Linked DNA regions of Homo sapiens. The protein of the gene in region 1 interacts with the protein of each later gene in a pairwise test. Each region holds a gene or a part of one and is shown on either strand. Other genes may lie near its edges.

Region 1 (3,500 bases):
ATTTTTAGTGGAGATGGGGCTTTACCATGTTGCCATACTGGTCTCGAACTCCTGACCTCAAGTGATCCTCCTGCCTCAGCCTCCCAAAGTGCTGCGATTACAGGCATGAGCCACTGCACCCGACCACTTCAGCTAATTTTGAAAAGTTCTAAAGGTTTATCTTAATTTGGGCAGGACTAATCCAGCCATTTGTAGACTGGCTATTTCAAGTGAGTATAAACATACATATAATCAATTTACTCTTAATATATTGTGAAGTATAAATATTTCAAATGAGTATAAATGTACATATAATCAATTTACTATTCATTTAGCATATAGGGAATGGTCAGAGATATTGCAGTGAAAGGCAGGTTGATATAAGCAAGAGGAAGGTGATTACTAGTTATCTACCAAGGCTCAAGTGGACAAGGGTCAGGAGCCCCTCAGTCTACTGAGGTCAAGTAAGACCATCTCTCCTCAGAGCTCTTAGCTACTCTCTTCAACTCTTCTAAGATTCTTAAAACACACTGATGTTGGCCGGGCAAGCACCTCAAAGTCCTGAGGTCAGGAGTTTGAGACCAGCCTGGACAACATGGTGAAACCCTGTCTCTACAAAAATACAAAAATTAGCTGGGCATGCTAGCGTGCACCTGTAATCCCAGCTACTAGCGAGGCTCGAGGCATGAGAATTGCCTGAACCCAAGAGGCGGAGGTTGCAGTGAGCTGACATCACACCATCGCACTCCAATCTGGGCAACAGAGCCAGGCTCCATCTCAAAAGAAAAGAGGAAAAAAAGTAATCAAAATAAGTTAAGATGCCACATTTATTAATCGATATTAACCCATTTCCCATTTAGAAAAAAAACAGTGCAGCTTGTTGCCAGTGCAGTATTCTCAGGGCAAATGGGAAACGGGTTGAATAATAGCAAAAGTTTTGACCATGAAAAAATGTAATTGTAGGCCACATGATTTAGATGAAAAAGGAGAGTGTAAAAAACTTTTTGAAGCTGATATTTTAGTTAGTACATTAAGTTTCTTACCCACGTGATAAAAACCCACACTTGCAAGCTAATCAGGATTAACTAGAACACTAGGTGGCCAGTTAAACAATCAAAAGGGTAACACATCACATTAAAATGCTGCGTGGCGACTAAAACAGATGAGATGAGTCTATACTTACCCTGACCACCCAATTTAATATTGTAACCTGCCTGGCATTTCTAAACTCCTCTTTGTTCTTTTTATTGATTGTACTTATTTTCCAACATGCTATAGAACTTATTCAAGTTTTTATTAGTTGTCTGTTCTCTCGTGCTATAATAAAAACTTAGGAGACCAGGGGTCTTTGTTTTGTTCAACTGATTTTATGCACCCAGAACAATGCCTGCCAATAGGTGATCAATTATTATTGAATACCGAATGAATGGAAATATATCCAAGACAAATGTTGACTGAAAAAACTTCAAAACTAGATATAATATTTAACTTATGTAAAATGGTGTACATTTATTTCTATATGTATATGTATTTATTTCTATATGTATATGTATCATATACATTTATTTCTATATGTCTGGAGGGATGTTCACTAAAGTGGTAACCATGCTCATCCTTAGGCGGTAAGATTTCTGGACATTTTAATTTTCCTTCTCTGTGCTTTTCTACAATGTGTGACTTTGTTTTTATAATGAGCATGTATTATTTAAATATATATATATTTCTTTAAAAATTAAACAAAAATCCCCAAATCTATTTCTTCGTTGTCTTAAGTCCATCGAAACTTTTTAAGTAAGTATTTTACTAAGTAATCCATCCTAAACTTATTCACAAATATATATTTGGAACAGAGTAAAGTAACAACTGATTTCAGGTGAACACATATAAGCAATCTCATGATAATCACAAGAATTTGCAAAGAGAATTTCAAAACAATTACCTTGGAAACCACTTGGCATGTTGAACCCATGGATCATCTCCAGATTCCCAACACCTGAGTCCACCATCACAGCAAAAGCATTTGACATCATCACTGTTACCTAAAATTAATTTTAGACCAAAACTTATGAATACACATAATTTGCCCACTAAAATGTATAAAATGAAATATATTTTTTTTAATTAGCAGATTCAGTTTCTTACCCACATAATAAAAACCCGCACTTGCAAGCTGCTCAGGATTAACTAGAACACTAGAGGGCCAGTTAAAGAATGTTTTAAAGCGGGCTGCATGTGTCTGCATGCTCAGATTAGAAACTGTGTATCTTGAAGTGTCTTGAAGCTGATTTTCTATAAATGGGCATTTGGGAAAATGTCTCAGGTGTTCTGACATAGCATTATCCTTCGGTTCCCAATTGCTCAATTTTCCACCACAGGCAAAGCAAGCCACTCTGTCTCCAGGTCCTATGTAGTAAAAGCCTGCTTTTGCCAGATCTGTTGGCGACAGAAAAGTCAATGGCCATGTCTGAAAAGTAAGTAATCTGGCATTTTCGTTATTCATTGCACAGTGGTAGGAACTTCTCATCAAGGCAGAAAAATCTTGATTTGCTCTGGAGTTTACAGGATTTGATGGAGAGTTTGAATAAGAGCCACGGAAATATCCACTGTTTTCTGTACCCGGAAGTAATGAGTGTGTGGAATTTGTTACTGAAGAAGGAAAAGTAGGCTGAGAGGTAGCTTCCAAGTTGTTAACGGAATTTAGACTCTGAACGAATCTGCAGCTAGGATACAACTTTTTATGCTTTTCAGTAGGACTGTCTCCTCTTTTCCAGTTATCCAGCATCAGGCCACAACAGAAGCATTTGACCTTGTCATTCACACCAGTGTAATAGAAACCAGCACGAGCAAGACTCCTTTCTGAGACAGGAACCCCAGCAGGAAAAGTGGAATACGTAGACATTCGGTACAGTTCACATGACAAGTCGTATTTCAGTTCAAACGTGTTGGCGCTTTTCATCAAATTTGATAAGAATATGCTGTTTTCTACTATGTTCATAATGAAATGAATGGGGAAGAAAAGGGACTAGCCTTTCTCTAGGGAGGTAGTTTTGTGCATGGCTTTGCTTTTATCAGTTTTAATACTAGGCTGAAAAGCCAAAATGAAAAATTTTTTATTATTTTTATTTCTATGCATTTAGAGTTTCAACATGGAGATTCTAAATCCTATACTGATACATTTTAAGGAAGAAATACACAATTGCACCTTTGTATAATCTTTATACATACAATGTAAACATGATGCTACAGAGTAAGCTGTGTTGAAAATTAAAACCCTTCACAGAAGAGTGATGTGTATTAAGCCATCAGGATGCCATTTAATGGCAGGCATCTCCACAGGTAGGTCAACTTCTCCAGGCTACTAGAATGTTTCAGTGGCATTCAATCAACCCAAAGATGTAATGTGTGACTCATGAAGCTTCTTTTCATGGTGGAAAGCTCTGCTGTCAAGTGTTTCACAGCAAAAATATTCAGAATATGTTTATTTTGCTTTTTGGAAATTGTGAAATTTAGTGGCCAGGAAA
Region 2 (3,500 bases), on another chromosome or scaffold:
AGCATGTTAGCTACTCTTCATTTCATCATATAACTATTACTATGGTATAAATGTATACACTAAATAGCCAACGAAAGCTAGAAATTTTGCTCTTAAAACATGGAACAACTAAGCTATATAGTAAATATTACACTACTGCAGCTGAGTATCTTATGCCCTTAACAGATAATTACAGCCATCAACTGAGAAGATTCTTTAATGAGTTGAAAAACTGCTTACCGTTTAGTCTGACTGAAAAAAAGATTATGCAAAATCATATGTACTTAAGACTTTTCTTCCATGAACACACATTTCTACAAAGATGGAATCCTTCTACGTATGTTGTTTTATAATCTCTCTTCAACTTTCAGGGACATCTTTCCAAGTTAGTATACATAAACCTATTCACAATCTTTTTAATGACTCTGTGGTAGTTTATTTTATGGATATGCTTTAACAAATTCCACCCAGTATCTGTTTTTTTTTTTCTATATAAACAATGCTGAAACAAATGATTATTTAACATTTAAAAATAAAACCAGTATTCAAATGTTTGTACTTTATTAGGTTTCTACAGATAAACTTTTAGACTTCTTACACAAAAAACCGTAAGGACACCCACAATTCTAACAACTCAGAAACAAGTTTGGCTTATCCTGCACACTACAAAGCAAGGATTTTTTCCTTGTTTTTATTCTTTAAGCAAATTCTAATTAATTTTGATTTGCTCACGCTAAGAATTCCTGAATCGGTCATAATGCTAGAATTGAATCGGTCATAACCCTTTTTTTTTTTTTTTTTTTTTTTTGACAGAGTCTCACTCTTGCTGCCCAGGCTGGAGTGCGGTGGTGCAATCTTGGCTCACTACAGCCTCTGCCTCCTGGGTTCAGGTGATTCTCCTGCCTCAGACCACTGAGTAGCTCGGATCACCAGGCGTGCGCCACCACACCCGGCTAATTTTTTATTTTTAGTAGAGATGGGGCTTCGCTCGCCATGTTGGCCAGGCTGGTCTTGAACTCTTGACCTCAGGTGAGCTGACCACCTTGGCCTCCCAAAGTGCAGGGATTATAAGTGTGAGCCACCGCACCCAACCAATGCTATCTTTTCAAATTAAAGTTTGGCTCATTATTTAATACTATTAGAATCTCCATAACAATATGAGAATTTTACCTCTAGTTAGAGAGGTTCCATAACATTCAAGTCATATTGAGTAAGAATACTCGTCAAACAAGGAAATGAAAACTTTAAAAACTTATATATTTTAAAGGTAATAACATAACTATCTTTACAATAAAAGCTGATTATCTTGCTTTCAAAAATGGGGGGGAATCATAAAAATCAACTTGGCAATTATTCTCTGTAAAATGAAATGTTTTACTCTTATTTACTTTCCAAGCAATATCGCTCATGCTTTCCCCAGAAGATAAAAATCATGTAAGAGTTCACTGTTTATCAAGAAGAGGACAAAATTCCAATGGACCTATAAAAACATTTTTTAAAAATCCAAAAGACAAGTAAACTCATCCTATTTTACTCCTACATCTTTTGGAACTTGATTGCATTTGAGTTTCACATTCCTGAAATAAAGCTAGTAAACATTTCCATTTCTGTCCAGTTTTAAGAAATGACATTTATAATCTGACAATAGAAAAGAGCAGAAGAATCATAAAGAGAGCAGGGATCCAGAGATCCTTACCTGTTTTATAACTCTGTGATCTGTATATGTCCCTGAGCTCTTTCATAAGTCTATCTGAAGCTTGCACTGACCCAGACACTGCACCCTGAAACACAAAAGCCACTGTTTACCAGGGTCTGCTGAGCTAAGATTTAAGATATTTCAACCTGATCTAAAAGATTACAGCAAAAATGGATCACCACTCAACATTTTTTTTTTTTTTTTTTGGAGATGGAGTCTAGCCCTGTTACCCAGGCTGGAGTGCAGTGGCGCAATCTCAGTTCACTGCAACCTCCGCCTCCCTGCTCAAGAGATTCTCCTGCCTCAGCCTCCCAAGTAGCTGAGACTACAGGTGCGCACCACCACGCCCAGCTAAATTTTGTATTTTTTTTTTTGGTAGAGACGGGATTTCACCATGTTGGCCAGGATGGTCTCAATCTCTTGACCTCGTGGTCTGCCTGCCTCGGCCTCCCAAAGTGCTGGGATTACAGGCATGAGCCACTGTGCCCAACCTCAACATTTTAAGAAGTAAAAAAAAGCCCAATTAAATGAAGCATTATGAAGTTTCAAGAGGATATTAAAACTAGGCACAAGTCTAGTTCATTTCCTATTTCTTCTCATGTGAAAAAGTCTAGCCAACATGTCCAGACCACCATGGATTCCACAATAACAAAGAATTCAGTATGAGTCTATTCCAAACCCCAGCAATTTTTGAAAATACTAGAAGACACTCAAGGTGACACATTATTTACTAAAATAGAGTTCCATTCATAAGACTACAAACAAGAATATTACACAGATGGTCTAGTTCGCACATTAAGACACTGAGAAACATCTGCCTACATGCGACTGGTTTCAGTTTTTCAGTGCAGGGACATCTCTAAAGATGAAAACACATCAATATCTTATCATAAGACTAAATACAAACGGAACTATTTTTTGGTCACGTGAAATTAAAGATTTTAAACATTGCACTATACTTTGAAGGGGGGAAAAATCAAGTTTCCTAGCTCATTTCATATCTACAAAATATGAGAAGTTTTTCCTATCTCTAAAATATGAAGCATACCTATTTCACACGGTGGCTATGAAGACTAAATGTGAAGATATGTGAAGTATAAAGTACTTGGCATAGTATCCATCATGCAAAAGTGTTCAGTAACTTATAGTTGTTTTGACTATAACTCAAACTGGAATCGATCACAAGACATAAAGTACAGTCATCATTAATTCAAATGACAAACTTTGTTTTTTAAGTAATCAAGATATGGGGGCTTGACTAAATTTCTTTGCTCTACTAAAAATTATAAATTAGATTAATATATAAATTAGACTGAAGGAGGGAGAGTAATCTACCTGTTTTCAACATTTGGCATCTACTTACCTAACAATTCATTCCCTGTTTTGGGGAACCTGTGCCCAAGACAAAGTAACTGCTACTCAGATTTCACGGAGTTGGTCAATAGCTCTAACACAAGGCAAAAAGTAGTAAGTGTTCAGACAATCATTTGATGTTTCCCTACTCTGAGCATTTTATATATATACACACATCATTTTCATTTATTTTTGATAGCAATCATCCAAAAGGTATGTACTGTCTAGCCATATTTTAGAGCTGAGGAAAGTGAAACCATAAATTGTGTGTTTGTCACCAGACTCAGTGTTCTTTTCACATCCTGCTGCTTCACGTAAAAGAGATATTAAGTTGTGGCCGGACACAGTGGCTCACACCTGTAATCCCAGCACTTCGGGAGGCCAAGGCAGGTGGATCACTTGAAGTCGGGAGTTCAAGACCAGCCTGGCCAACATGGTGAAACCCTGTCTCTACTAAAAATACAAAAATTAG
Region 3 (3,500 bases), on another chromosome or scaffold:
TATGGCTGTATAATATTGCATTGTGTATATAGACCACGTTGTGTTTGTCCACTCAGGTTGCTGTCACCTTTTGGGTATTTTTGAAAATGGTTAATTTTGGCTACCATGAAACATGGGTGTACAAATAACTCTACAAATTTCTGCTTTCCATTCTTTTGAGTATATACCTGGACGTGGAATTGCTGGATCGTATGGTAATTCTATGTTTAACTTTTTAGAAACTGCCATTCTGTTTTCCATAGTGGCTGCACAATTTTACATTCCCACCAGCAGTACACAAGAGTTCCAATTTCTCCACATCCTCATCAGCACTTATTCTTTAATAATAGTCATCCTGAGGGGTGAAAAAGTTATCTTGTTGTGATTTTGATTTGAATTTCCCTAATGACTGTCACTGCTGAGTGCTATATTCATGTGTTATTGGCCATTTGTATATCTTCTTTAGAAAAATGTCTATTCAAGTCCTTTGTCCATTTTTTTAATTGAGTCATTTTTGTTGAGTTGAAGTTCTTTACATATTCTAGATATTACTTATCAGATATAATTTGTGATTATTTTCTATTTTTCGGTTGCCTTTTCATTCTCATGGTGTCCCTTTGATGCATGAAAGTTTTCAATTTTGATGTAGTGCAACTTTTTGCCTTTGCTTTTGATGTCATACCCCAAGATATTATTGCCAAATCCAACATCATGAAAATTTTTCCCCTATATTCTCTTTTAAGAATTTCAGTTTAATCTCATGGTTACGTCTCTAATCCATTCTGAGTTAATTTTTTGTATATGGTATAAGGTAAGCGTCCATTGTTATTTTTTGTGTGGGTATCCATATTTCCCAGCACCTTTTGTTGAAAAGGCTGTTTCCCCCATTGAACAGTCTTGGCACCCTTGTTGAAAATCATTTGATCATATGTGTAATAGTGTATTTCTGGGCTCTCTATTCTGTTTTATTCATCTGTACATCTACCTTTTTACCAGTGCCACAGTGTTGTTGATTATTGTAGCTCTGTAGATCGTTTTAAAACTTGGAGAGGGTTTTTACGGTCCAGTTAACACTTGATTGCCAGATCCAGGGGATTCCATAAAAGGACTTTAAGAAAGTGACATGATCACTGATGCAGGGGACCCTGGACCTCAGTGACTTCTCCTGTTACTCCCTCTTTCCACCCCCACTTTGTCCTGCCCTAACTTGAACATCCCCTTCCTTCTGTAGCCCCTGAAGAAGATGGCCGACCGGATCAGGAAGTATCAGATCTTGAACAATGAGGTTTTTGCCATCCTGAACAAATACATGAAGTCCGTGGAGACAGACAGTTCCACTGTGGAGCATGTGCGCTGCTTCCAGCCACCCATCCACCAGTCCTTGGCCACCACTTGCTAAGCAGAAGATCCTGCAGACCCTTATCTGGAGGAGGAAGAGAAGCAGGAGAGAGAAAGCCACAGCCAGCCTGCCATAGGATCCAACTGGACAACGTGTGGGATGGACCTGGAAACAAGCACCTCCCCAAACACATCACCACTCCCTAGGGCGGGGCCTGTGCATGCTCTCCCATGACATCTCCATGCTGGTTTCTCCATAGCATAAATGAAAAAAAAAAAAAAAAAGTAAACAGGGCAGTGTGTGCTTTTTCTTTTCTCCCCCCTCAACTATATTAAGAACTCCTAGTTTCACCCTTTCTCCATCCCATCATCCCACCTATCTGTGGTTGCTTCCCAAGACCTCCTCCCAAGATAGACATCTCCTACCCAGTGCCCTTGTGTGACCCCAGGACTCAAGTCTCAGACTGTGAACAGATGTGGCCATGCCCAGAGACGCCAGCCTGGCCAGAAGGGCATGCCTCAGCTTACTACTTCATCTCTCCTGGTTCCCTCCCTGCAGTGCCCCGGGTGTCATCTTCTCCCACTCTGGGTACCAGGGATTCTACCACATAGGCTTCCCAAAGCCCCATTCTAACTCCCCTCTCTCAGGGAAGCCCTAGAGAGAGGTCCAAAAAGCATTCACAGCTGTATCACACTCTATGCAGGTGGGGTAGGAGACTGATCAGGCCTGCTGTGGGGAAGCAGTATGTATGAACACAGCCAGAAATGTCATAGTCCAAACAGGATGCTTTCAGGCCATCTCAGCTGCTTGATGGTGAGATGGTTCCCTTATTCCTTCAGGAAAGGCTTAGCATTGGGCCACATAGGGGAAGCAGCTTTGAACAAATCAGTCATAGCACTGCCTATAGCATTAGCCAGTGACCAAATTAGGGACAACGTCTTGGCACAGAATTGCTTATCAAGGAACATTTCCACAAGAAAGAAAATATTAAGGGGTTATTTCCACAGAAGCCCAAAACGTCTTGGAAACACAGAGGTGAGGAGGAGGAATAGTAATTGTCAATGAGCTTTTAATACCAAGATACACCCCCTGCCCCCAAAGAAGAGTCCTCTTTTAGGGAATCAGAACCTTCATTGTCCTAGAAGCTGAAAGATTCTTGGAACATTTTAGCTTTTACTCTCAACTTGCTGTTCTCTTTACATTCCTTAAGTTAGACTTTCGGGTGTGGCTTCTCTCCCAGGGGTAACATTTACTTCCATTTTCTAGACTGAACCAAAAGTCTTCTGCAGAATCTCCCACCGAGTGTGGTAAGAAGGAAGGACAAAAGGCTTTAGGATATAAATTTCATGTTACAGAGCATGTCATTGTCAAAGGAAATCTGTGGCCCTGAGATTTTAAGAACATAAAATGTGACATTTGATATTTCTCCAGCCCAGGGAAGTAAGATGGTTAGCAATGGTTGCCTTAATCAAATGGTCCCATTTTTAACCCCAAAGGAAGTGCCCACAGCAAGAGGTTTGTGTGATGCACTTATGTCCTCCGGTGAGGAAAGGGGGCCACATATGAAAGGCCCCTTAGGTCAGATCCTGAGAGTAGCACATTTGAGTGCAGATTCCTGGGCCCCACCTCAAACCTACTAATTCTGAATCTCTGGGAATAGGGCCAGGAAATCTGCCCTTTCTACAAACTACCCAAGTTGTTCTGTTGCACATCAATGTTTGGGAACCACTGCTGTAAGGGAATCATTCTGGTCACCTTGAGCTTTGAGCTACCACTAAGCCATGAAAGAAAATACATCATACAGGGAAGAGAGAAGGGAGGAGGTTCCAAGTAGTAACTGGCAGATCCTCCTGTCTGGAGGTACCACCTTCTATTCTGGTTTCTGACTTTTCCTTCTTGATGACCATAGATGTGTTCCAGAGGCAAAAGAGACACATTATCCCAGATGGCAGAACATGCTTTCAAAACATATAAAATGTCAAAGTTCCAGATCCTTCTACATCTTTAGTCCTGTCTGAGGATGGTAGCTGGCTCTCTGTAGCTGATAGATGGCTAGAGTTCCATCCAAATCCTTGACCACGACTTCATGGAGATTTGAATAATCTATTTGATGAGATTTCTATTTCAATAACCCACCTCTCTCACCCCACATTCATATCCCTAAATTTGACCCTCTGGGCCG
Region 4 (3,500 bases), on another chromosome or scaffold:
GAATTAGAAAAAAATTCACCAACAATTCTGATTTATAAACTAAAAAAAAAAAAGAAAATAGGAAAAGAGGCAGATTTTCCAATACGTAAATCTCTCTGCCATACTTCGACAGGTTTAATACAGAGTATCTGTTCCCTCCAGAAAAAAATAATTACCAGAAAATATGAAAACCCTATTTCCTGAAACATCACTTCTTTGATTCTGAGCTCTGTTCCATGTTGAATACAAACAACCACATCCACAATCTTTAACTCGGGCTTACTTTACCACTATTATCTATGAATGGGAAGTAGAGCAGCTAGTGATTGATAAAAGTGAAAATGGAGACTGGCCATAACTACCTTCGAAATCATTTAGGAATCAGAAATGTCCATAAGATGGCTAGGAATAAGCCACACTTTGAAGCTGACATTCTAACTGAATGTTGCTATATTACACCAACAAATGTGAAGATTCATCAGAAACTGAACAACTTTGAAATCACATTTCAGTAATTCTACTTACCCCTTTCTTCCTTATAAATTCTCTGAGATATTTTATCTATCAAATTTATTTTCTGGCTAAATAGTTCAATAAAGTTATTCATTTCCATGAACTCCTCTGGGCGGTTTTTAACTCCTCTCATTGAGGACGCAACAGCTCTGACGGTTTGCCCCATCCTGCTTAGCAAGCCAGGACCTTGCTTCTTGTGAGAAGAGAGTTCCTAGAAACAAAAAACCAAGTATTTCTAGTGAAACAAGTCTCAATATTCCGAGACTCAATACAAAAATAAACCTAATTAGGAGAATAAAATCAAGATAAAATGGTTTCATAGGCATCAATCTTTTTTAATGTTAGCTTGAAGCAGATGAGCTTTATTAAGGTACAGTGTTTCCTCTAAGTGGCAGCCTCAATAATATTCCCTTTCACACTACTCATGTAAAACAGGTATATAGTCTTTCCTCAGACCGTAAATCTTTAAAAGAACAGGGTTTAACCGACAGAATAGTGCTCAATGAGATACTAGAGGAGATAAGGATAATATGACATACCATCTATATTTTATAATAGGAATTTAATGGAAAATGATTGAGAGAAGATTTCTCAGGGCCTAAGTTATACTCCAAAAAATAAAATTGGAAAACTTCATTAATTCTTTAGATGTAATAGTAGCTAACATTTATTTAGAGCTTAATACATTCTGGGCACTATACTGACATTTTAATACACGTAATTCACCATAAACCTATGAGGTAGGTTTTATTATTTTCCTCATTTTACAGAAGAAAATAGAGGCACAGGAAAGTTAACTAACTTGCTCAAGATCCCAGAGCAGGCCGGGTGCAGTGGCTCACGTCCGTAATCCCAGTACTTTGGGAGGCCGAGGAGGGCATACATGAGGTCAGGAGATCGAGACTACCCTGGCTAACACGGTGAAACTCCCTCTCTACTAAAAATACAAAAAAATTAGCCTGGCGTGGTGGCAGGTGCCTGTAGTCCCAGCTACTTGGGAGGCTGAGGCAGGAGAATGGCGTGAACCCAGGAGGCAGAGGTTGCAGTGAGCCGAGATCATGCCACTGCACTCCAGCCTGAGCCACAGAGCGAGACTCCATCTCAAAAAAAAAAAAAAAAAAAAAAAAAAAAATCCCAGAGCAATTAAGTGGTAGAGCAAGAACTGGAATCCTGGAAGTCTGATTCCAGAGGCTTCATTATTAAGCACCAACTTGCTCTGCCCGCTTAAAGTCATTAGGATGGTTTGTAAATAGATACTACCTGAACATAGCACTTCAGCCAAATGAAGTGGGTAAACAGTGACACCACCTTCACCAACTGGCTGTCTACAGAGAAAACTTTTTTTTTTTTTTTTTTTTTGAGACGGAGTCTCGCTCTTTCGCCCAGGCTGGACTGCAGTGGCACAATCCTGGCTCACTGCAAGCTCCGCCTCCCGGGTTCATGCCATTCTCCTGCCTCAGCCTCCTGAGTAGCTGGGATTACAGGTGCCCACCACCGCGCCCGGCTAATTTTTTGTATTTTTAGTAGAGACGGGGTTTCACCGTGTTAGCCAAGATGGTCTCGATCTCCTGACCTTGTGATCCGCCCGCCTCGGCCTCCCAAAGTGCTGGGATTACAGGCGTGAGCCACCGCGCCCAGCTGAGAAAACTTGTAATAAGATACGAAACTAGTTATTTCATACTTAACCTAGGAGGGACGACTATAGACTTGCAAAATAGAAAACATCCTATAAAAGAATATACTGCACAGAAACATATCCCTTGAGAAGTATGGCATAAGTTAAAAGAACAAATACAAACAAAAAAGGACAAGGGATTTTAATAATCATTGTGGCCCTTGTTGAGACACAAGCTTGGGATCGAATAAAATATATGATCAAATAAAATACTGCTGACTACCTAATTTACAGATAAAAATATTATATATTATTTACCCAAATATTAAATAACACATTGTCTATCTTCCTTCAGGTTTTCATTCCTGAATATCTTGCAGAATACATACAAAGTAAACTTGTTTATTTCCAATTCTGTGTGATTTCTTTTGTGCCAATAATAACAGATGCCATCCTTGACCAGGCAATACATCCATCCAAGAGTGCTACAGCCTCATTTGATAGAGTAAACATTATCAGAGACAGCTCACGTCACAACTGGCAAGCTGTTACTGAAACTGTTGACTGTAGAAAATATTTCTAACAGCTTCTAAGGTTCTGAAGTCAGGCCGCATATTCATTTCACATAAGTCACAAAGGGCTTCCATAGAGGACTATCTGTCAAGATTGAAATGAACCACTTTTTAGCTTCTACCACTGGCAACAACTGAGAGATATAAAACTCAACATTTGCCAGTAACTGTTTAATATTGACCCTTTGTCCTGTCTGGTATCTTTCTTGCAGAGTTATAGCTTTATAGAATAAAAGAAAAAACAAGTAGAATGGATAAGGTTTCTGTATTAGAAATTAGACACTCCCCCACTTAGATAATTAAAGGAAAAGTAAGGAGATTATATTATCTATCTGTCCGTCCATCCATCCATCCATCCATCCATCCATCTCCATTCATCCATCTACCCATTTAATAAGGACTTTTATCCTAACTTAAAAAGCCCTGATCCATTATTACTCAAAATAAAGTAGACCCTTGAACAACACAGGTGTGAGCTAAGCAGGTCCACACATGTGGACTTTTTTCAATAAATATACTGGAAAATTTTTTGGAGATTTGTGACAACTAAAAAAACCTCACAAACCACATAGTCCAGAAATGTAGAAAAAACTGAGAGAAAGGTATGTCATGAATCCACAAAATGTATGTGGATACTAGTCTATCATTTACTACCCTAAAATGTGTATAAATCTATTATAAAAAGTTAAAATTTATCAAAACGTATGCACATATTTTGACTTACATGCCACCATATGCAGTTGAGAGAAATGTAAACAAACATAAAGATGCAGTATTAAATCAAAACTGCTTAAAATTAACTACACTACACACTGTACTAT

Evidence for each region. Proteins that work in one complex are often made in the same cells at the same time.
Region 2: the proteins of BIRC3 (region 1) and UBE2Q2 interact in a two-hybrid assay, tested with the Homo sapiens proteins (one study listed by BioGRID).
Region 3: the proteins of BIRC3 (region 1) and CYFIP2 interact in a two-hybrid assay, tested with the Homo sapiens proteins (one large-scale study listed by BioGRID and IntAct).
Region 4: the proteins of BIRC3 (region 1) and SNX7 interact in a two-hybrid assay, tested with the Homo sapiens proteins (one large-scale study listed by BioGRID and IntAct).

What each region holds. Positions count from the first base shown.
Region 1 is NC_000011.10:102,323,984-102,327,483, reverse strand, and holds part of BIRC3 (baculoviral IAP repeat-containing protein 3), read right to left. Parts: 5' UTR 2,975-3,500; coding exon 2,122-2,974; intron 2,019-2,121; coding exon 1,919-2,018; intron 1-1,918. UniProt on the Homo sapiens protein: Multi-functional protein which regulates not only caspases and apoptosis, but also modulates inflammatory signaling and immunity, mitogenic kinase signaling and cell proliferation, as well as cell invasion and metastasis.
Region 2 is NC_000015.10:75,874,447-75,877,946, reverse strand, and holds part of UBE2Q2 (ubiquitin-conjugating enzyme E2 Q2), read right to left. Parts: intron 3,123-3,500; coding exon of another isoform or gene 3,114-3,122; exon of another isoform or gene 3,039-3,113; intron 1,761-3,038; coding exon 1,676-1,760; intron 1-1,675.
Region 3 is NC_000005.10:157,391,623-157,395,122, forward strand, and holds part of CYFIP2 (cytoplasmic FMR1-interacting protein 2), read left to right. Parts: intron 1-1,210; coding exon 1,211-1,378; 3' UTR 1,379-3,500. UniProt on the Homo sapiens protein: Involved in T-cell adhesion and p53/TP53-dependent induction of apoptosis. Does not bind RNA. As component of the WAVE1 complex, required for BDNF-NTRK2 endocytic trafficking and signaling from early endosomes.
Region 4 is NC_000001.11:98,692,721-98,696,220, reverse strand, and holds part of SNX7 (sorting nexin-7), read right to left. Parts: intron 704-3,500; coding exon 505-703; intron 1-504. UniProt on the Homo sapiens protein: Involved in the regulation of endocytosis and in several stages of intracellular trafficking. Together with SNX4, involved in autophagosome assembly by regulating trafficking and recycling of phospholipid scramblase ATG9A.